Homo sapiens: one gene and its partners. The protein of the gene in region 6 purifies or fractionates together with the protein of the main gene of each other region. This does not show direct contact. Each region holds a gene or a part of one and is shown on either strand. Other genes may lie near its edges. The genes, in order: TNIP2, MAEA, RMND5A, MKLN1, CSTPP1, KRABD3 and ASPM.

What was found.
Region 1: the proteins of KRABD3 (region 6) and TNIP2 purify together in Homo sapiens (co-immunoprecipitation; one large-scale study listed by IntAct). This does not show direct contact.
Region 2: the proteins of KRABD3 (region 6) and MAEA purify together in Homo sapiens (affinity purification with mass spectrometry; one large-scale study listed by BioGRID and IntAct). This does not show direct contact.
Region 3: the proteins of KRABD3 (region 6) and RMND5A purify together in Homo sapiens (co-immunoprecipitation; one large-scale study listed by IntAct). This does not show direct contact.
Region 4: the proteins of KRABD3 (region 6) and MKLN1 purify together in Homo sapiens (co-immunoprecipitation; one large-scale study listed by IntAct). This does not show direct contact.
Region 5: the proteins of KRABD3 (region 6) and CSTPP1 purify together in Homo sapiens (co-immunoprecipitation; one large-scale study listed by IntAct). This does not show direct contact.
Region 7: the proteins of KRABD3 (region 6) and ASPM purify together in Homo sapiens (co-immunoprecipitation; one large-scale study listed by IntAct). This does not show direct contact.

The regions. Positions count from the first base shown.
Region 1 is NC_000004.12:2,741,148-2,743,742, reverse strand, and holds the end of TNIP2 (TNFAIP3-interacting protein 2), read left to right. Parts: intron 1-1,222; coding exon 1,223-1,486; 3' UTR 1,487-2,095; downstream 2,096-2,595. UniProt on the Homo sapiens protein: Inhibits NF-kappa-B activation by blocking the interaction of RIPK1 with its downstream effector NEMO/IKBKG.
Region 2 is NC_000004.12:1,296,391-1,299,890, forward strand, and holds part of MAEA (E3 ubiquitin-protein transferase MAEA), read left to right. Parts: intron 1-1,583; exon of another isoform or gene 1,584-1,725; intron 1,726-3,500.
Region 3 is NC_000002.12:86,775,416-86,778,541, forward strand, and holds the end of RMND5A (E3 ubiquitin-protein transferase RMND5A), read left to right. Parts: 3' UTR 1-2,626; downstream 2,627-3,126.
Region 4 is NC_000007.14:131,393,876-131,397,375, reverse strand, and holds part of MKLN1 (muskelin), read right to left. Parts: intron 110-3,500; coding exon 1-109. UniProt on the Homo sapiens protein: Component of the CTLH E3 ubiquitin-protein ligase complex that selectively accepts ubiquitin from UBE2H and mediates ubiquitination and subsequent proteasomal degradation of the transcription factor HBP1.
Region 5 is NC_000011.10:46,985,261-46,988,760, forward strand, and holds part of CSTPP1 (centriolar satellite-associated tubulin polyglutamylase complex regulator 1), read left to right. Parts: intron 1-1,947; coding exon 1,948-2,050; intron 2,051-3,500. UniProt on the Homo sapiens protein: Regulator of the tubulin polyglutamylase complex (TPGC) that controls cytoskeletal organization, nuclear shape, and cilium disassembly by balancing microtubule and actin assembly.
Region 6 is NC_000007.14:149,717,951-149,721,450, forward strand, and holds part of KRABD3 (protein KRBA1), read left to right. Parts: intron 1-1,518; exon of another isoform or gene 1,519-1,595; coding exon 1,596-1,722; intron 1,723-2,057; coding exon 2,058-2,177; intron 2,178-2,884; coding exon 2,885-3,040; intron 3,041-3,429; coding exon of another isoform or gene 3,430-3,432; coding exon 3,433-3,500.
Region 7 is NC_000001.11:197,136,670-197,140,169, reverse strand, and holds part of ASPM (abnormal spindle-like microcephaly-associated protein), read left to right. Parts: intron 1-298; coding exon 299-403; intron 404-862; exon of another isoform or gene 863-1,622; intron 1,623-3,500. UniProt on the Homo sapiens protein: Involved in mitotic spindle regulation and coordination of mitotic processes.

The DNA of each region.
Region 1 (2,595 bases), on a different chromosome or scaffold from region 6:
GGAATAGCCTGGGCCCCACTCAAAGAGCTTCCTCTCCTGGCACAGACTGAACAGTAGTGATGCCTCTTGAGAATCGATGCGTCCCGGGCTGGAGCTAGGACGTCAGCCGTGTTTCAGGGTGTGAACAGGGACCCTGGGGCTGTGAGGCCACCCCCCACTGCCCTGTTCCGAGCAGCCACTGGGCCTCAGTGGTTTCTGCTTCTCCTCCGCATGAAGGGCACGGGAGAGTCATGGTGGACTATGGGACTAACCCTGGGACTAAGTCTGCAGCAGAGGGCTGGACAGGTTTTTCTGGCCTTCATGAATTCAAGGAAGCATGTGATTTGGATTGAAGGAGCACTATTGGTACAATCGTGAGGATGGTCTCAGGCCGCCTCTTGAAGATTTTGGACCAGATGAACTGGTTCCAGACTTGCAGGCCCAGATTCTTACCCCCGGGGGTAAAGTTCCTGGTGGGGCCTGCAGACCTTGTACTAAGTGGCCTCTGGTTCCCTTTCAACAGTAGCCTGTGGCCCCTCGAGGGTTGCTCAGTCCCTAGATGGCACAGCCAGGGACAGTGGTGCTGAAGGCATGGGTGATAAGCTGTAGTCCCACTGGGGAAAGTCCACATTCAGACAGGAAGTGGAAGCACCAAGGCCTGCTGGAATGAAGTTCCCAGGCAAGCAGTGAGGGCCACAGGCTGCAGTGCTTCAGGACGGATGTTTGGAGAACATGTGCCAGATCATGCCAGGTGGTTGGTGGGGCCAAGCCAGGGACACCTCTTGCTGCTACTGAAGGACCCCCTGAGCCCCAGAGTGCTCAGCACCCCCAGGCCCCACAGAGGAGGTGCAGAGTAGGGTTGGTACTCAGTTTGCCCAGCTCCCCACCAGAGGCTCTGCCACCTCCACTCTGTGGTGGCCTGTGGGCCACGTCATCAGGGCCACCTTCTCAGTCAGGTCTCCTGGGGCCGATAGGTCCAACTGAACAGGACTTCCACCAAGGGGCTGGGGGGTGGACCACGCCAGGGCCTACTTCTTCATGAGCACATGACGGAGCGTGTGTGTGATCCTCAGTCATTCACTGAGCGCCCCCTTGTCTGGGCTCTGGGGCGCAGCAGGAAGCAAAGTGAGGGGCTGAAGTTCCGCTCAGGGATAGGTGAAGTGCCTCTGGTTGCTGGAACCTGAGACCTGGCTTTGTGACCGTCAGCACAGCCCACGTATATACACCCTTGCCTTTTCTCCAGGATTCTCGAGAGCCAGACGCCGGCCGGATTCACGCTGGGAGCAAAACTGCCAAGTATTTGGCCGCCGACGCATTAGAGCTTATGGTGCCTGGTGGCTGGAGGCCTGGGACTGGGTCCCAGCAGCCAGAACCCCCTGCAGAGGGCGGGCATCCTGGCGCGGCCCAGAGAGGCCAGGGGGACCTTCAGTGCCCTCACTGCCTGCAGTGCTTCAGTGACGAGCAAGGGGAAGAGCTCCTCAGGCATGTGGCTGAGTGCTGCCAGTGACCGAGACTCACCCGTGCCCTTGCGGCCTCCTGGCCCGGTGCAGCTGCCCTCAGGGACAGGGTGGGTGCTCTCAGATGCCATGGGTTGAGCTCTACTGAGAGCCAAGGCCCCTAGAATAGTTGCGGGGCACTCTGATCGTTCACTTTGGTCCCTTTGGCTATGGAACAGGCTGGGTCACAGGGAACTGCCAGTGAGGCTGGAGGCTGGAGGTGGAGATGGGGTCAGGAACATCTGGCAGAGGGAGGTCCCAGTCTGTGTCTCCATCAGGCTTAAGCCAGAGCTATCTGGTGCTGGTGTGCCAGCCCCTCCCCCAGCCTGCCTAGAAAGGGGTGGCTGCCTGAGGGAGTCACTTGTATGGTCCCCAGGGTGGGAGCCCCATCCTGTTCTATGGAATAAAGCGTCGCCTCTCTGCCTCGAACCAGTCAAATGGAGTATTGCGGCTGCACGTCACACTAGGGTGGCCACCCCCGCCATTGCGAGCCACATGTCTGCACTGAGAAACTGCATTTCAGTAGCATTTGTCATCCAGCCGGAAGTTAAAGCACACTTACTTTATTCACCTATTTTTATAATAAACGTTCTTGCTGCTGTGACTGCTCTGAGAATTTGTGTTGGAAGCTGGGGTGCAGGGACTGAACAGTATTTACAGCAGCTGGCATGGGAAAACACTCCTGCTGTTGCCTTCTGCCAGGGCACCAAGACAAGGGGGTCAGTGGGAGCCTGGCTGTATTAGGGTTCTCTAGAGGGACAGAACTAATGGAACAGATAGATATATAAAGGGGAGTGTGTCAAGTATTAACTCACACGATCACAAGTTCCCACAATAGGCCGTCTGCAGGCTGAGGAACAAGGAGAGCCAGTCCCGAGTTCCGAAACTGAAGAACTTGGGAGTCCTATGTTCAAGGGCAGGAAGCATCCAGCACGGAGCAAGATGTAGGCTGGGAGGCCAGGCCAGTCTCTCTTTTCACGTTTTTCTGCCTGCTTTATTCTGGCCACGCTGGCAGCTGATTAGATGGTGCCCACCCCGATTGAGGGTGGATCTGCCTTCCCCAGCCCACTGACTCAAATGTTAATCTCCTTGGCAACACCCTCACAGACACACCCAGATC
Region 2 (3,500 bases), on a different chromosome or scaffold from region 6:
CGTCACCCATGCCATTCCTCACCTGTACCCCTCACCCATGCCTGTGCCGTTCCTCACCCGTGCCTGTGCCCCCCTCACCCGTGCCTGTGCCTCCCTCACTTGCGCTGTGCCCCCCTCACCTGTGCTGTGCCCTTTGCCTTGTGGCTGCTCCTGCACTTGGTTCTCTCTCTGTTGGTCGGTTTTCCCATTGGCTGTGCAGCTCCCTGGTGTGCACGTGGCTCTGAGTCTTCCTCTCGTGAAAACCCCTTCCTTGCCCCCGTCCTCCTCCAGCTACTACTCCCTGTCTCTGCCCCTTCATGTCTCTCTTCCTGTTTTACCTAAATCAGATTTTTGCCCCCCAACACTCCACCCAGATGTTCCTCTTGAGGACAGGATGATGCTCCTGAAAGCGGTCAGTCCACAGCGGACCCCACTGCCTCGAGACGCTCCCATCACTCGGCTCCCGTGACACCATCCTCTGGGCTCTCCCCACCCCTCGCTGCATGTCCTCACTTGCCTATGCTGTCTTCTCTAGTCTTGGAGGCCTTTTGTTTTATGTCACCAGCCAGCCCTCCAGAGGTTGTGTGGCTTCACAGACGGTCTCCAAGCTCCTGTCCCCACACTGCTGCCCTCCCCAGGCCTCTCTCCCTGAGGCCATCCCGTGTAGTCACCTCCCGGAGCTCTCTTCGCATGTCTGGAAGGCAGTTCAAAGATACGATACCAGGCGCAAAACCAAATGCCGCATCTCGGCCTTGGGGCCCCAGACGAGCCCCAGACCTGCCTTACTAAGCCACCCTTCCCAAGTCAGTTGACAGCGATGTCCCCCGGCACTTGTTCAGTGACAGCCGAGAACTCGGAGGTTTTCTCGATTTCTGTTTCTCACGTTTATCCTTGAGTCCACGATGGCTGCTGGGGCTGCGGCCTTCGCGGCCAGGAGGAGGGTAAGGGGGAATCAGTGCCGCCCTGCGTGGCCAGCTCCCTGCGTGGGGGCCTTAGTGGACATCCTCCCAAGCGTTTACACTTCAGCTCATTCCCCAGAGCACGGGGCTGGCCATTTCTAGCTTTGGAGGAGCCTGAAAAAGTACGTGCGTATGTGTGTGTGTATACATACATATAGAGAGAGAGCACGCGCTTGAGTGTGGGCTCATTGCTGCCCTAAATAAAATTAGGATGTGGTTCCTTTTGCCCTTTGTCCCTTGCCTGCCTGGTTTCCTTTGCAGCACTCGTCACAGTCTGACGCGGTCGCCTGCATCTCTCTGTGCTTTGGTTGGGCGTCTCCTTTAGAGCGTCTGCTCTGCGAGGGCACGGGCCGTCCTTTGTCGTCGTTCACGTCACACCCACGAGTGCCTGGCACAGGAGTCAGTCAATGGCTGTTGGCCGAACCAATTTCTCCCCCGTCTGTCTGGGAAATTCCTAAACTTCGCATCTCACTTTTGTCCACTTGCCGCATTCTAGAGTATGTCTTGGTCTCATGGCCTGTGCTCTCATCTGGCTGTGGTCAGCCTCTTGCGTTTCCTTTCTCCCTTGCCTCCACCCCTCGCGATGTAGCCCCATCCCCTGCCCTTCTCTGCTTCCCATTGTTCTAGAACATTCCAGCATGGAAACCCCGCTGTGCAAGGCCCCTGCACTGGCCACAGAAGCCGCACCTATCTGCTGAGGAACCCGGTTGCTGCCTGGAGTGGGTGTCGAGTACTGCCTGGCAGCATAGCCATGCTTCTTGAGGCATTTTAGCACCCTGTACCCCAGGTACTGTTCCATATGCCCCTCCTTCTCCATGAGCCCCCCATGCCTGCCCCGTCCTTGTGCTCTGCCCGCGGCTTGGCCCTGTCTGTCGCCTGCCTGCTTGTGCTCACTGTTTCCTTTCTTTTACTGGAGATATGTCATTTGTGCCCCGCCCAAGGCCAGCCTTTGTTCATGCACCAGACCCCCTGCCCCATCCCTGTGACCTGAAGAGGCATGTGCCGTCTTCTGGTTATCCACGAAGAGGCACACGCGCCGTCTTCTGGTTATCCACGAAGAGGCACACGCGCCGTCTTCTGGTTATCCACGAAGAGGCACACGCGCCGTCTTCTGGTTAACTGTGTGCGGGACCCACAGGTCCCCTCTGTCTGAGCCAGCCCTGCCTTGGGGTCTCTGGAATTGCTTCTCATCTGGTTTTACCCCCATCACAGTGCTATAGTCAGGGCACCAGGTAACCCCAAGACACTGCTGAGACCCATGATGGATTCTTGCTGCCCATCTCGACCTCTCACAGGGCTGGAACACAGCTCACCCCCTCGGGCTCCTAGAGCGCCATCCTCGCGTTTCCCCCCGGGCTCAGTCCTTGGCCCTGGGTGTTGCTGTGAGCACCGCTGCCTTGGTGCTCTCACAGGGTCTAGTGGACTGATAGGACCCTCTGTGTATACTGATGACTCCCAGGCAGGTATCTTCCCAACCCCAGAGCCCTGTATCCAGTAGCCTGTAAAACATACCCACTTGGCAAGGCACTTTGGCATTAAAATTATTATTATTAAAATTATTATTATTTTTAGAGATGGGATCTCACTCTGGCACCCAGGCGGGAGTGCAGTGGCATGATCACAGCTCACTTCAGCCTTGACCTCCTGGGCTCAGGTGATCTTCCTGCCTCAGCCTCCCGGGTAACTGGGACCACGGGCGCCTGCTTCCGTGTCTGGCTAATTTTTTTATTTGTAGAGATAGGTTCTAGCTCCGTTGTCTAGGCTGGTCTCCATCTCTTGGGCTCAAGCATTCCTCCCTCCTGGGCGTCCAAAAGTGTTGGAATAACAGGTGTGAGCCACCATGCCCAGCTCCTTGGCATATTTAGATCTGAGCTTATCATCTTAACACCTGCTGCCCAAACCAATTCTACCAGTCTCCCTTCTCTTCGGGAAGGGCAGCCCCTCCATCTCCCTTGGTCAGGCCAGAACCTTCAGGTTGGCCTTGATGCCTCTGTTGTCACAGCTCATGCCCAGCCCGTCTGCCCCTCCACCCTGGCGTCAGGACATGCCCAGGCCCAGCTGCTGCTGCTCTTCCCACCTCTGCCCCTGCGGCTCAAGTCGCATCTCTCTCTGGAATATTGAATAGCCTTCTGGCTGCTCCTGCTCTGCTCATGCCCACCCCGGCTGCCCCAGCGCCAGATCCTGTCGTCTTTTTGTTCTAGGAGTTTCCTGACCTGGGGATGAAGGCCAGGGTCGTTACAGTGGCTCCCAGGCCCTTTGCCCTGTAGGGTGCTGGGCCCAGTGGCCTTTCTGCCGCCATTCAGCCAGGCCAGCATGCCGAGCCCAGGGTTTTACTGCCACCTTCCTCTGTCTGGAGCGCTCCTTCCACAGATGTCCATGGTCCCATGTCCTCACCTTCAATCTTTGCCAACGTCCGTGGTCCCATGTCCTCACCTCCTTCAATCTTCGCTGAGCTGTCAGCTTGTGAAGCTTCTCTGACTCCACTGTTGAAACTGCAGCCCCAGCATCTCCCACTTCTGCCCTTTTCCCTCGTGAGTCGTGACCGCTGTCTCACATAACGGT
Region 3 (3,126 bases), on a different chromosome or scaffold from region 6:
TTAGGCTTCCTGTAAGGTTTGAATGAGACAGATGTACTCTGAAGGCTGGTGGTAAATGTGTTTGATGACCAGACTCTTCATACAGTCGGCTTGGGCCACTTTAAAGGACAAAAGCCAGAGCTCAGCTTTATCCCTCTCCCAGTGCTGGGAGCCAAAAAACTGTTGACGGTTTTTTGTGCAGCTCAAGAAAACTTTGAAAAGAACATGCTTTAACTGAAGCATTGGACTCTGCAGCTTTCTGTGTAAGGCCCGTGTACTCCCACTGGGCAGGGTGAGGACCAAAAATCTGAAACTCTTATGAATCTGACATATTATATGGAAATTATATCTTGTGACCGTCTTCAAGTGCATGGACTTAAAATTCATGAGAGACTAAATGTGAGGGAGAGGTGGATTTAAAGAGGCCAGACCTTAACCAAAGATGCTGAGATACAGCATTCTGTCCCCCCTGCCCTAGAAACTCCATAAATGCTGTCACAACCCTATCATCGCTGATGCTTTCTGCATGTCAGCAGTCCAGGAGGATGCTTTTTGTCTCTCTTTGCCTCCACTTTACAAAAGATAATATGATAGAGGCAACGTTTATAACAGTCACATTTAATTATAATGTACATCAAAGGCAGAATTTCAGAATGGTTTCTTAAATTTCCTTGGGAACCGTTTCCACATATCAGTTATAGACAAAGGCCATGGGACTATGCTAAACCAATAAAACCTTATTAGCAAATCTTTAGATTCTGACTTAGCCAGAGCATCTGAGTGTTCAAGTACAGTTTTACAGTGGCTAAGGTTGTCTCTTGATCTTTTTTCTCCGTTGTGTGATCACAGATGCTATTTCTGTTTTATTGGTGATTATACGAGACTTCTAATACATAAATGAACGGGTATTGGTGCCTCTTTATTTTAAAAAATTTGAAGAAAAGAGCCACCTCATATTCATAGGGTGTGTATTTTTTGAGTGTGAGCATTTAATTGAAAATAAGAAAGCTATGAAGTAAATGTTAACTTCTCTGTAGCAGCTAATGCATAGAGACACTAAAACCCACACCACATTTTGTGGGAAATGAGGATCCTGATCCTCTTTTGTCCTCTCCAGGTAGTCTCGCAGGTTATGCAGCTTAAGTTCAGTCTTCTTTATGCTGCGATTGATTTCCACCTCAGTGGCTTAGCCTTTGGGACAGTGGATACTGCAACAGCCAAGAACTCTTGGTTATCCGCACAAGCTGCTGGTAGACTACATTAGCCCTCTGGTTTTCCAGCTCAACCTCTGATAAAGTGGACTGAGAGCCACGCTGCTCAGTCTGTTTCGTCAGCCGACTCAGGTTATTTTCAGGGAAGGCATGGAGGCATAGTTTGGTTAGTTTCATCACTAGGATGTATAAGGTGACGACACAAACCAAATACCTTTCTTTCATCACTTAACTATACGTACTTTATCTCTGGTAACACTAGAATGCTGTGGTCTTGAGGGAATGTTAGCAAGGAACACATAGAAGATTTGGTGTTTCATAAGCCTGTCTAGGTGTGGCAGGTTTTGTGTGGTACACTGATGTTTACCATAAGCAGGTACAAGCTTCATGAACCGTTCTTAATGAACTATAATTGAATAGATACCAAAAATAGAATGACAAATGTATTTTAATAGCAGATGAGGCAGTTTTAGGATGAATTTTCCACTGTTGATTTTACTTCAAGACATAGCAAGAGAAACAAAATTTTGTTTTCAAGACATTTCCACTGCAGTTTCAAGCTGTAGTGGGCATATGCTTCATTTACTTCCAAAGAGGCAAAAGCAGCTGGAATTGGCTTACAGCACATGCTTTGTTTCATGTTATGGGTGAGGACCTACATACACTCTTACTTTAGCAGTCACTTAACCTTCTCCAGCAAGGCAGTTGTGGGGTTCACTAGGATTTAGTGCCTGATCTTTTTTTTGGGAAGGGGCGGGAATGAATGTGTTGGGGCTGGGAGGGAAGCAGAAGAAAATGGGAGTGTGAGTGAGTGTGCATGTGTCTGAAGTTCACCATTGCCCCCACCTGCACCTAGCAAGGAACAGGTGTTTGATGTATTTTGCTCATGACTGCAGTATGCATGTATTTTTTTCCTTCTCTGTGTTTTCTAAACTTACACTAAAGGATTCATCAAATCATCTTGTTCAGATGGCTCAGGATTGTATTTATTTTGCTTACCCCGTGCTCTTGGGTTCTATAGTATTTCTATAATTATGTAACGAGAATAGTGTTGCACTGTAATCTATCATATAGAGCTATATGTATGGAAAATTTTGATCAATTTTTTAAGAAATGTATCCTGTTTGCAAAGGCACAGTAAAGTTGCATCTTATAGACTATAGGCAATAAAGCTAACAATAAACCTTATTTAACACAAACCACATCCATATCCTCTGTTCATTTGATTTTGGAAAAAGTAGCATATCCAGTAGTTTCAGGGAATTCATTTTAACTTTAAGAATTCTGATATATTTAATTTATAAATTTCGGACTGATATAATAGAGTTTTGGAAAACTATAAGAAATGCTTTGTTAATGTGTGTATTCCTATGTAAAACACATGGCTTTTCCTGTGTATATTTTTAAAAATTAAAGAAATGCACATTTAAAAAGTGTTTTGTGGAACCAGTCTGTATAAATGTGCCAGGTGACAAAGGTATGAGGGAGGGAGTAGGGAGGTGCTGACTGTGAGAAGAGAAAATTGCTGTCTGTATTTGCTAAGGGTCTGCATGTCAAGAATTTAAGAAAATATCTGTCCCCATCTTACTGTGTTTCTGTGCCACCAACAGTGAGAAGAGAAGGTGACTGAGCAGTGTCCCGAGTTGTTTTTTGTTGTTGTTTTGAGACAGACTCTCACTCTGTTGCCTGGGCTGGAGTGCAGTAGCCCAATCTCGGCTCACTGCAACCTCCACCTCCTGGGTCCAAGCGATTCTCGTGCCTCAGCCTCCCGGGTAGCTGGGATTACAGGCATGTGCCACCATGCCCAGCTAATTTTTTTTTATTTTTAGTAGACAGTGTTTCACCATGTTGGCCAGGCTGGTCTCGAACTCCTGACCCTCAAGTGATCTGCCCACCTCAGCCTCCCAAAGTGCTGGGATTACAGGCGTGAGCCACT
Region 4 (3,500 bases), about 18 Mb from region 6:
TTGCTATACCAGTTGAGACAAGGTTGTACTATATCAGGATCATCAATGCCACTAAGTTCAACATACCAGATGCTAAAGTTAAAGCTGGGTCCCCAGGACAAGAGTGGAACTTTAAGGAGAAAAAACAAAAAGAAGAAGAAAAATATTAACACAGTTCAAATAAAACTTTAGCAAAGTAAAAGCACTATTCAACCTTATAAGGATTCATTCAACGAATTTTCTGGGCATCTTTTATATGACTAGCATGGTGCTAAGGCTACAACAGTAAAACGAAACAGATGACCCATGCCACCATAAGATTTCCTTAGTTAATAAAAACACTGTAAGATAAATTAAAAATGTGCACATGTCTACCCCCAAATAAATGCCACCAGAATTAGATGATTTAACAGGTAAATTTTATCAAATGTACAAGCAGCAAAAAATTACTTTAGAATTTAGTCTACATCAGAACACTGAAAGAGACTGAAATTATTTATCAGTGGCACAACCCTGAAATCCAAATCAGAAGAAAAAAGACTTAAGGCCAATCACAGCTATGAATACATATTTAAATACAAATTAAAAGGAGAAAAGTTGCAAAAAATTCTATCAGATTTTCATTGTAACCAAACAGATCTCATTCCAGGAATGGAAAGATGATGGTTCAATAAATAATAGGAGCTATATTAATATAATCTACCACGTTAACAAAATAAAAGAAAAAACACATTTGATGACTTAAATACATTATTATTTTTAAACCCTCAATATATAAGCAATATAAGGCAATAAAAAATTTCCTTAGATTTTTTTAAAAAGCATCAAAAACCTTAAAAATTAAACCTACTGGGAAAATACTAAATATTCCCACTCAAGTCAGAACAAGACAAAGATGTCCAATATCTCTACTATTTGTCACTAATTAGAGGTCTCAACCAGTGCAATAAGGAAACAAACAAACAAATTAAGAAAAACGAATTGTAATTTAAAGATGACCTGTCTACCTAAAAAAATTCAAGAGAGCCAGGAGCAGTAGCTCAAGCCTGTAATCCCAGCACTTTGGGAGGCCGTGGCAAGAGGATCACTTGAGGCCAGGAATTCAAAACCAGCCTGGCAAACACAGTGAAACTCTGTCTCCACTAAAAATAGAAAAAATAGCCAGTCATGGTGGCGTGCGCCTATAATCCCAGCTACTTGGGAGGCTGTGGCAAGAGAATCACTTGAACCCAGGAGGTGGAGGTTGCAGTGAGCTGCCATGACACCACTGTACTCCAGCCTGGGCGACAGAATAAGACTGTGTCTCAGTGGAAAAAAATATATATATATATTCAATTGAAAAACTTTTTATTTGTAAACAAGGTAAACACACAAAAATCAACTTTTCCTATACCTACAATAACCAATTAGAAAATATACCTCAAAAAAGTCCTATTTATAATGGCAAAAAGCTGAAAATACTTCAGAATAAACTTAAAATACGCAATATTTATAAGAAAATATAAAATTTTAGTGAATAATTGAATAAATGAAAGAACATACTATGTTCCTATATAGGAAAACTCAATATTGTAAATGTGTAGCTCTCTCCAATTAATTATAAATTTAACATCATGTCAATCAAAATCCCAATGGTCTTTCCAGAGGTCCCACGTAGTCAAAACTACTTTTTTTTTTAATAACAACACTAGTTATTTTTCAAAACAACTATTTTTCAAAATAACATAATAAACACTTTTCTAGCCTTTTAATAATAGCAACATTGCACTAATGGTACAAAAGCAATGGTGTGTAAAACTGCTAGCACCTTGGTACCAAACTAATGGCACCAAAAAGTACTATTAGTGCTCAGTAAGTACAAGGTGCACTGTATGCCTCACCACCATACACTGGCAGTAAAATAAAATAAAATAAAATAAAATAAAATAAAATAAAATAAAATAAAAATAATTTTTACCAATGGCACAGAAAAATTAATTTTATTAAATTCCCATCAAGTACACATCTGTCTAGTATCCTGTGTGACAAAATGAGATTTGCATATAAAGCATTTTTGTTGTGTACCAAACCACAATGGTTATCTCAAGGAAAGGACCTGTACAATTATTTAAGTTGTGAGTTTAAAAATCAATTTATTTTTCATGGAATGCCATTTTATTCTTGAAAGAAAAACAGACAACCTATGATTATTCAGATTTGGGTATTTGCCAAACATTTACATGTTATTTCAAGGAAAATACTTAACGATATTTGCTGTCAAGGATAAAAACCAAGCTTTCAAGAGAAAAATTAGAATTTTGGAAGATAAGTACCCACCACTGTGAGCTTAACTGATTCCCAACACTTAGATTTTTTTAAATGAGATTAGATGTGATATTAATAAATGTGATTTTTAAAATATTACATAATGAAGTGTTTCAACATTTGGGAGATCTGTGTAATTCAGTGAACCATATTTTCTAAATAACCAATGAATGTTACAAAATCACACCTGGGTAAAAAGTCCAAGACAGACCACTGGGTAAAAAGTCCAAGATAGACCAGTGAATTTTAATGTAACAACAGATTCACTGATGCAGTTTCAGAATCAATAATGCAACTATCTTTAAGAAACTAACATTTGTAGAGTTTTGATGAAGCATCAAAATAGAATATCCAGAATAGCTGATACCAGGCGTAATGATTTCCAATATCCGACTGAATAAGGAAAATGTATGGGGTATGATACTTTTATATATTTTTGTCATCTAAAACAGGGGTCCCAAACCCCCAGGCCCAAACCTGTACAGGTCCCTGGCCTGTTAGGAACCCAGACGCATGGCAGGAGGTGCGCAGTGTGTTAAGGGAGCATTACTGCCTGGGCTCTGCCTCCTGTCAGATCAGCGTTGGCATTAGATTCTCAAAGGACTGCAAACTCTATCATGAACTGCAAATACAAGGGATCTAAGTTGTGCACTCCTTATGAGAATCTAATGCTTGATGATCTGAGATGGAAAAGTTTCATCCCAAAACCATCTCTCCACCATACCCTGCCCCAACTTCTGGGTCCACAGAAAAACTGTCTTCCACAAAACTGGTCGCTGGTGTCAAAAAGGTTGGGGACCACTGATATAAAGGAAGCTGTGTGAATAAAAACACAGGCAGTAGCAACCAGCCATAAGGATGTATGAAGGAATGCTGGGATATTTAATATGCCTTTCTGTTTATGTATGTAAACAACACACATTTCAAAAAGTTTTTTTTTAACAACAAATATTAAATTATCTTTATTGTTTTAGTGTTTCTTTATGTAGCAGTGTCATTTAAAAGTTTATCTACTAAATCACATAGCAATAACCATCTAGTAGTATAAGAGTCAGAATAAAATAATGATTCTAAACTAAAAGCACCAAGAATATAGTCTATATATGTCACCAGACATAAAATATTAGAGATTTCCAGGTCCAAGTCTCATTAAGAATTCATTTATTGGTCCTGGTGCAGTGGCTCATGTCTGTAATCCCAACACTTTGGGAGGCAGA
Region 5 (3,500 bases), on a different chromosome or scaffold from region 6:
AAGACTTTTGGGCTCAGGTTGGCAGGTAAACTTACTTGTTTTATGAGCTTCACTAGACTACCAGGACTTCAGAAATAGTTTTTTGAAATACCAATATTTATAAATTTTAGGTAATTCCATCATATTTTCCTGAGGAATGAAACTGTGAAAGAAGTAAATGTCTACTTTGGCAGCAACTTCATAGAATTGCTTTTTGGAAGGATATTCATCACTTTGGGGTTTTTTGTTCTCACTGCTCCAGATGAAAGTATTTTTCTGAATTTTTTATGGTAAATGTGGACACTGAATTGGAAGCTTCTATGTAAAGTTTGTCAGGAAACCTCTGTCATACCTAAGGATAAAATTCAGAGAAAGGGAAGAAGTATTTGAGTACCTGACATCTAAGAAGTTCTGGCCTATGTTGTTTACTGAGTAAACTCCCAATAATGCTTTGAGACAGGCTTTTAAGGAAACATGTTATCAATCACGTACTATGTACCAAACACATAGTGGTGTTTTACCTGTATTATCTTATTTATTTCTCATAACCCTATAATGTAAGTACCATTATTATCCCCATTTTACCATGAAGAATAGGCTTGAAGAATAATTTGTTTATGGTCACATAACTAGGAAGTGGCAGAGCTGAGAATGGAGCTCTCAACTCTCTGTAATCCAAAGCCCAGGTTCTTAACCAGTGATTCTTAAACTTAAGAGTACATAAGAAGCATCAGGAGTACTTGTTAAAAATTACTGGGCTGTAGTAAAAAATGTAAGGTCACTAAATCTGGGACAGTGCCAGACTATAAATCTGCGTTTTAAACGGCATCCCAGGGGATTCAGATCAAGAAATTGATTGACCATATTTTGAGAAACATAGTTAAATTATATTGCTTTTCACACTTGATAAAGAAGAAAACAGGTGTAGACTAAGTAACTATCCAAGATTAAGCTACCAAGACAGAGCCATGATTCAAACTCAGGTCTGTCTCACTCTAATACTCATACTTTTTATTATACGCCCATGATTAACTCACACATTTCCAAGTCACAACAAATGCAGAAAACATGACATCTAATAAACCAAGCCAGATAGATTTCATGGTCTTGTTATTTACCAAAGTTAATAACTTATATATACACCAGTACGAAAATTTTCATGGTCCTTAAACCTTTCCAGTGACTTTTTTTTTTTTTTTCTAATTTAAATTAACTGAGTTTTCTTTTTTTTCTGTTCTGAAATGAAGTCTGGCTCTGTCGCCCAGGCTGGAGTGCAATGGCATGATCTTGGCTCACTGCAACCTCCACCTCCCAGGTTCAAGCAATTCCCCTGCCGCAGCTTCCTGAGTAGCTGGGATTACTAGCTACTCAGGAAGTAGCCACTGCATCTGGCTAATTTTTGTATTATTGGTAGAGACAGGTTTTCACCATGTTGCCAAGCTGGTCTCGAACTCCTGACCTCAAGTGATCCACCCGCCTCAGCCTCCCAAAATGCTGGGATTACAGGCCTGAGCCACTGTGCCTGGCCAGAGTTTTCTTTACAATCATACCATCCATGCTTCAAGCATGGAATTACTAACTCCCTGGGATAAGTTTCTGATGCAGAAATGGAAAAGAATAGAAGGAGGTAGAAAGAAAAGAACTTCCAGGTGTATCTGCTGAATGGTGCTAAATCTCCTCTTCAACCCACCCTTGTGATTGAGATGAAGAATGAAGGGTTGATGCTAATACTAACAGCCAGTCAAATGGCAATTGGTCATGTTCACATCATCTCCCAATCTATCCTTTGAGACTATAGCTCAGTTAGGGTCAGCAAGTTTGCTTTGCCTATTCCAGTCCACTGATGAAGTGTCATCAGACAGAGCCAACACCTGGATTGCCTTACACATGACCTCCTACTAGGATTGGGATCATTCTTTTTAAAATCTTTCTCTCATTTTCTCTTTCTCTCTTGCTATTTGATTGCAGCTCAGCGACATGTCCTCACCTACATGGAGGATGCAGTGTGCCAGCTGCTAGAAAACAGGGAAGATATTAGCCAATATGGAATTGCCAGGTTCTTCACTGAATAGTAAGTACATGAATGTTGTACTAATACAGTGAACCCAGAGGAGGCGCTTGGAAGCAGGCAGGATACTTGAGGAACAGAGCAGGACAATGCTGATTAGGTAGTGGCAGTGAATGTTTAGTTTTGGTAGGTTGGTTGTGGGCCGCCCAAACATGTTTTGGAGCATGCCTTTGGTGCAGCTAGTTTGTCCAGTGATGTCTCATGAATAGTTTTGATTACAGTAGCTTAACAACTGCTTGTTTGATCTATTAGATCTATTTCTGTAGGTTTCTCTTTTAACTTTCTCCTTTATTCAAAATATTCACTTTGATTTCCTTTCGCTGATGTTCATCTAGCCTGTTTTTTTTCATGGCTGGCTTTTCTCATGGAATCTAGGCTAATGTTCCTCTGCAGTTTTCTTTCTACAGGATGCTGTGCCAATCACTTAATGATTTAAGTGTATTTCTAATCAGCAAAGTGAAGAGACAACCCACAGAATGGGAGAAAGTATTTGCAAACTACCCATCTGACAAGGGATTAATAACCAGAATATATAAGGAGCTCAAATATCTCTATAGGAAAACATCCAATAATCCCATCAAAAAATGGACAAAAGATGTGCATAGACACTTCTCAAAACAAGACATACAAATGGCAAACAGGCATAAGCAAAGGTGCTCAACATCATTGATCATCAGAGAAATGCAAATCAAAACTACAATGAGATAACATCTCACCCCAGTTACAATGGCTTGTATCCTAAAGACAGGCAATAACAAATGCTGGCGAGGATGTGGAGAAAGGGAACCCTTCTACACTGTTGATGGGGATGTAAATTAGTATAACCACTGTGGAGAACAGTTTGGAGGTTCCTCAAAAAACTAGGAATAGGGCTGCCATATGATCCAGCAATTCAACTGCTGGGTATATACCCAAAAGAAAGGAAATTAGTGTATCGAATAAATATCAGTACTCCTATGTTTGTTACAGCACTGTTTAGAGTACTAAGATTTGGAAGCAATCTAAGTGTCCATCAACAGATGAATGGGTAAAGAAAATGTGGTACATATACACAATGGAGTATTATTTGGCCCTAAGAAAGAATGAGATCCTGTCATTTGCAACAACATGAATGGAACTGAAGATCATTATGTTAAGTGAAATAAGCCAGGCACAGAAAGACAAACATTGGATGTTCTCACTTGTTTGTGGGATGTAAAAATCAAAACAATTAAACTCATGGACAAAGAGAATAGAAGGATGGTTACCAGAGATTGGGAAGGGTAGCAGGGGGCTGGGGGAAGAGGTGGGGATGGTTGATGGTTACAAAAAAGAAAAAAAAGAATGAAAAAGACCTGCTATTTGATAGCACAACAGGGTGACTCTAGTCAATGATAACTTAATTGTTCATTTTAAAATAACTCAAAGGGTACATTTAGATTGTTTGTAACACAAAGGAAAAATGCTTGATGGG
Region 6 (3,500 bases):
ACCATGCCTGGCTAATTTTTGTATTTTATTAGAGATGGGGTTTCACCATGTTGGCCAGGCTGGTCTTGAACTCCTGACCTCAGGTGATCCACCCACCTGGGCCTCCCAAAGTGCTGGGATTACAGGCGTGAACCATCACACCCAGCCTGGGACAGTTTTTAGAATCACTGACTTGGGTGGGTGCAGGGGCTCACGCCTGTAATCCTAGCACTTTGGGAGACCAATGTGGGAGAACCACTTGAGCCCAGGAGTTCAAGACTGGCCTGGGCAACATAGTAAGGTCCTGTCTTTTTTAATTAATTAATTAAAATAACTGCCCTGAGCAGATGAAACAAGCGGTGAATTGTCTTTGCTTTATTAGGGGCGTGTTCATTTTCTTTAATAATTTGTTCTCACAAATAAACAGTTTAACATTCATTTCTCAACAGGAAGGACCCTTCCCATAATTTACCTTCTGTTTGCTTAATTTGCACAGTTAATTTTTGCCATAATTTTAAATTCAAGCCTATTGATGCTGGTCATTTTCTAGTGTCTGATGGCCACTTTAAAGTCCACTGAAGGACTTTTTTTTTTTTTTTTTTTTTTTGAGATGGAGTCTCGCCATATTGCCCAGACTGGAGTGCAATGGCGTGATCTCGGCTCACTGCAACCTCTGCCTTCCGAGGTCAAGCAATTCTCCTGCCTCAGCCTCCTGAGTAGCTGAGATTACAGGCGCCCACCACCACACCTAATTTTTGCATTTTTAGTAGAGACAAGGTTTCACCATATTGGCCAGCCTGGTCTCGAACTCCTGATCTCAGGTGATCTGTCTGCCTTGGCCCCCCGAAGTGCTGGGATTACAGGCGTGAGCCACCACACCCAGCCGAAGGATTATTTTGTAAAGAAACATAGACAAAAATGCTCGTGTTATTTTAAAAAGCCACAGGGTAGGAGGAGATGAGTACAGAGAATAGGAGATAGGAGTACAGGGTGTAAAGGAGCCTGGTGACCCAAAGCTTCCAAGGGCAACCCCAGGTTTCTTCTGAGCACTTCTCTAAACCCAGCACACAAACTAGGTGGACAGCAAGAATGTCTTCTCTCACAGCCCTGCAGACCCGAAGCCCTACGTCACAGTGTGGGCAGGCCACACTCCCTCTGAAGGCTCTGGGCCAGGATCCTTCTTGCCTCTTGTGGCTTCTGGTGGCCCTGGGCATTCCTTGGCTTGTGGCTGCATGACTGTAGTCTCTGCCTGTCTTCACACAGCTTTCTTCTTTTGTGTCTGTCTCTGTGTCTCTTCTGATAAGGAATGAGTCATACTGGACTAAGGGTCCCCCCTACTTAGGAGTATGACCTCATCTTAAGTAATTCCATCTGCAGGGACTCTGTTTCTAAATAAGGTCCTACTTACAGGCGTGAGGGTTAGGACTTCAGCGTGTCTCTGCAGAGACACAGCTCACCCCCAGCACTGTCTCTTGAGGGGATTCCTGCATGTCAGACCCTGGCTATTATCCTGGAGTGTGCGCCTGGAGGCCTAGGTGGGGTTACCAAGTGCAGGGACAGCTAGGCTGTCCCCTCTGGGATGGAACAACCAACCCCCCCGGAGACTGTGCCTGCAGGTGTCCATCACCTTCAAGGACTTGGCCGTGCGGTTCTCGGAGGAGGAGTGGCGGCTCCTGGAGGAGGGGCAGAGGGAGTTCTACCGAGACGTGATGCGGGAGAACTACGAGACGCTGGTCTCTGTGGGTAAGGACGGGAGGGAGCAGCACGTGTGGCAGGAGCCTGGTGGGCGGTGGAAGGGAGGCCGGAGTCCCTGGACCCGGCAGCCTTAGTCTTTCCACCTGAGAAATGAACACGGGGATCGTTCACGCTGCTGCTATTCTATGTCCCGGGACCGGGTTCTAGGTACAATTCGGTGGGGGTATGCGGCGGCCTCTGAGGTTCCGACCACTCTGCGGTTCTTTGAGTTTAAGTGGTCACATGAATGTGCACAGACCTGCAGGGGCCTGGGCTGCTATGCAACTGTGTGCGAAGCGGAGACCACTCCATTCCCAGGGCCACAGTTCCCTCTTCTTTCCCAGGGACAGCTGAGCTGCTCCCCCTCTCTGCTTTCCTGTCACCCTCAGAGCCTGGAAGAGCTGTTGGGGGAGGGAGCCACGCTGATGAGGGGCAGGAGCCTGCTGGTTGTGGAGATCCCCAGGGTAAGTTATCTGTCAGACTTTGGGTGTCTCCTCCCACTCATCGGTCCTCAGCCCCAGGCAATGCGTGACCTCAGCCTACTCAGTCCAGCCTCTCACCTCCCTGCCTCCCCTACTGCAACCTCCCAAGCTTTCACCCCTCATCCCTCTGGGCTGGAAGCCTGTTATGCAGAGAAGCACTCAGAGAAAGCCTGGGGTCACCCTGGAGAGTACCTCCTGCCTCAGGCCCCCCACCCACCACCACCCTGAAGCCTTATCACAGCCACCCCTGCAGAACCTGCTCCAGCTCCCAAAAGTCCTGCCACGAGGCTTACATCCCAAGACCTCAGATGGTGGATGTGCTCCACCGGCCCAGACTGGGCAAGGCCAGGCATTTAGGGGGTGCCAGGAAAGGCAGAGGGCCCAGATGGTGGAAGAAGTGTAGCGGCAGCCCGCCTGGGCATTCCCCTGGGAGGCATGGAGATTAATGAGTAACGTAGAACAGAGGAGCCCTGTTACCCAGGCCCCGCCCCCATGCCCTGGCTGTCCCTTGGCCAGAGCGCCTGGCCTGAGCCCAGGTCCTCTATATCTCATGGGACATGGTGTCTCCTCTGGCTGCTCCTCATGTGGCTGGGAGGATTACGTGAGATGCTGGGTGTGAAAACACGCACGTAGGTGTGAGTGCTGAGCAGCCGCAGGGGTGCGGGGGGGTCACTGTGGCCTCTCTGCAGGGGGACAGCCCCGGCACAGCCTGCACCTCACAGCCCTGGTGCAGCTGGTGAAGGAGATCCCAGAGTTCTTGTTTGGAGAAGTCAAGGGCGCTATGGACAGCCCCGAGAGCGAGAGCCGGGGAGCCAGCCTGGATGGAGAGAGAGCGAGCCCCGAGGGTAAGTCAGACAGTGGGGCAGTGCACGCAGCCTCCTCTGCACTCCGCATGATGAAGCACAAGTCCACGGCACTGCACTGCATGTGGGCTTGCAGGCACAGGCCGGGAGGCAGAGTCACCTGCTGTTCCTCGTGGCTAGGCCGTGTGCCGCCCTCTGAGCACATGCCCATAGCTGGCGAGAGGGCAGCTCTGACTTTCGCATGGTGGTTTCTGTGTGGCTTTGTCACCCTCCACCCACCATGGCCCCATTCAGAGCCCAGTGATGACAACACATAGGTGGCTGACATCCTGGTCATTGTTAGTACATGGCAAGGAAAGGACCCAGAATGTGACAGTGTGACAATGTTAGGGGCATCTTACCAGTTGTTGATTCTCCCTCTTTCCCGACAGCAGCTGCGGCAAGAGAGCCCTGCCCTCTCCGAGGCCTGCTCAGCTGCCTTCCAGACGGCCCTACCAGCCAG
Region 7 (3,500 bases), on a different chromosome or scaffold from region 6:
TGCATATTCTCAGCACCTCGTAGAGAGTCTGGAATATACAGACACAATAAGTTTTGGTTGAATCTAGACTTTAGCCTCTGTAAACACAAAATAAATTGTGGTTTATGGTCTGTGACTTCTGGATGTTGGTTTGATAAACCACTGAATTCATAGCATTAGTGCGTGGAGTACAGTGGTTATTAAGTGTTTGCTAAATGAATATGATTGTGAAGAACCCAAACTTTAACTTTCAAATCACTGACCTATTTAGGGAATTTGTATTTTAATGCTCTTAGTTTTGTTTTCTAATTTATTTTAGATTTATCAATATTCAGAACTCCAATTTCTAAAACAAACAAAAGGACAAAACCCATTATCGCTGTGGCACAGTCCAGTTTGACCTTCATAAAACCATTAAAAACAGGCAAGTATTTATTATACTTAAACTCTCTGAAAACATGACATCGAATGAAGCATTAATTGCATTTCACATGGAAATGAATTGATTTTTGTTGTTGAATAACAGCCTGGAAGAATTGTTAAAGTGTGTATTAAAATGACAGGATATTGTGTCAACTTTCTGTTTGATAAAAGAAATAAAGACCAAATGTTCAATAGATCAGTAGGGTCACTATAGTAATTATTGTATATTTCAAAATAGCTAGAAGAGAATAACTGATGTTTCTAGCATAAAGAAAAGACAGATATTTGGACTGCGGGCACCCACGACCATGCCCGGCTAATTTTTTTGTATTTTTAGTGGAGACGGGGTTTCACCGTGTTGGCCGGGGTGGTCGGGCAATCTCCTGACCTCGTGATCCCTCCCCTCGCCTCCCAGGGTGCTGGGATTTCAGGCGTGAGCCACCGCGCCCGGCCAAAAACATGGGCTGTTATCCTTTGCTGTGGTAGGGAGTATGGATGAAGTGAAAGTTGGTAAAAGGATGGTCAGAGGCCGTCACTAGCCTTGGGGAGTTTTCCAAGTGGAAAATGAAAATCACTGTGACTTCGTTAAGCTCCAAGATATGCTTCTTTGTACCAATGTGGAAAATCTAAAAGAAAAACCTACACTCAGCACTATGAATGCTGTAGGTACCAAAAACTGCAGAAAATGGGCTTTACAGATCTGGGCCCAGACAACCAGCCAGTTAGTTTTCAAGAAATCTTTGAAGCCAAAAGACAAGAGTGCTATGATCAATGTCAGAGAGAAGAAGAGTTGAAACAGATTTATGCAGCGAGTCAAGGAGAAAGAAGCTGAAAAAGAGCTGCAGGACAAGTTCAAGCATCTTAAAATGATTCAACAGGAGGAGATAAGGAAGCTCGAAGAAGAGAAAAAACAACTGGAAGGAGAAATAATAGATTTTTTATAAAATGAAGGCTGCTTCTGAGGCACTGCAGACTCAGCTGAGCACCAATACAAAGAAAGACAAACATCGTAAGAAATAATCGTTTCTCTTAATTTTCTGTTTGAGAGCCCTATCATTCACATCCCAGCTTCCTGTGATTGTATTTGTAGCATTTAAATCTGATTGAAGTTCTTATTTTAAAAATTGGCTTGCTTATTGTATATTTTCCCTAACTAAAGTGTGAACTCCTAGTGGGGCGTGGTGGCTCATGCCTGTGATCCCAGCACTTTGGGAGGCTGAGGCAGGTGGACCATCTGAGGTCAGGAGTTCAAGACCAGCCTGACCAGGATGATGAGGCCCTGTCTCTGCTGGGAATACAAGAGTTGGCTGGGCTTGGTGGCCGGTACCTGTGGTCCCAGCTGCTTGGGAGGCTGGGAGAGTCACTTGGGCCCCAGAGGTGGAGGTTGCAGCGAGCCAGGTTCTTGCCATTGCACTCCAGCCTGGGCGACAAGGGCGGGACTCCATCTCAAGAAATAAAAAGGTGTGAACTCCCTGAAGACAGGTCCTGTGTCCATCTTTTCAGATTCTGTATCCTGGCACTTAGGATGTAGACTAACACGAAGATGACATTCAATCAATATTTGCCAAAATGAAAAAATAAACATGTAACATCATGTTAAAGGAGCAGTTTAGGTGGAGAAATTTCTTTACCATAGTCCTGCTTGTGGATCCAGTAGTGACTTTTACATTTTATATCTAAATAGAAGCTTGAGGCTTTGTTGGGGACTCATAGGCATAAAATATTATGTTATACAAATCTAATTAATAGGCCTATTTTCCTTTTTAAATTCTAATAATTTCTTGATAGTTTTTATTATGATAAAAGATTGGATTTTGATTAGAACTCTCATGCTTTTATGTCAGACTTAAAACTGATATTAGAATAAAGAATTCAAAAGCTAGAGAAAATCAGAGTACAATGAGAAGCCATGAGTTGCATTTGAATGATAATATTATGTCTTACAGATTTGGGGTATACGCTAAAGTTATCAAAGTTGTAAAAATAAGGCTGGGTGCAGTGGCTTACACCTGTGGTCCCAGCACTTTGGGAGGCCAAAGTGGGCGGATCACTTGAGGTCAGGAGTTTGTGACCTGCCCGGCTGGCATGGTGAAACCCCATCCCTACTGATAATGCAGAAGTTGGCTGGGCATGATGGTGTGCACCTGTAGTCCCTGCTACTCGAAAGGCTGAGGCGGGAGAGTCGCTTATACCCAGGAGGCAGAGGTGCAGTGAACAGAGATTGTGCCACTGCACTCCAGCATGAGTGACAGAGCGCTATGAGTCACTACACCTGGTATGAGCCACCATGCCCGGCCTACGATGACTTTTATACATGTTGTTAAATCATCTTACAGATTTTATAATTTGGGGGAAGAAAAATTTTACTAAATGGTCTTTTAATGGAAACTACAAGAACCAGAATCTTTGCTTTGTTCACTTAAGTGTCCATTCCTAGGCCTAGAACAATGTCTGACACATAGCGGCAATTATTCCTTGAATAAATGGACCCAGCAATAGTACATTAGCTATGCTATATGCATAAATTAAAAATGTAGATTATTGACTTTCAAAAAATAATTAATGTGACTTCTTACTGCTTCTGAACATGTTTGTGAGTTATATTGCTGAGGGACCTTTATCTTCTCATTCTTTCATCTTAATCCAATGTTATTAAAATTGAAATCACCAATATTATTCCATATCTAAAAATAATATCTACCTTATAAAAATTATCACTCTGCTGCATTTGAGAATAGACTTTTTAGGTAATAATAGTATGATCCATAGGGTTTTTTTAGGGCACAGAAGGATTCATGCTAACAGAACATTTTATTTTCTATTTTCCCAGAGCTATAAAACATGATATTATATGATAACTATAAGGCATATTTTTACTCTGTTCATATTTTTTCTAAAAAAAATTAGTGTTTGTTTCCCATATAACTTTTAATTTTATAAGTAAATATTTGTCTCTTTCAGCTCCAGTTTTATGTGAAATAGAGTTTCCAGATTTATGTAGCATGGAGAGTTTTAATAAGTCAGAGTTACTGATTTTTGCCAGTCATTTTCTCAGTTGTTAACTTCTTTTATCTTTAGTTGATTTTTTTTGTAGTGAC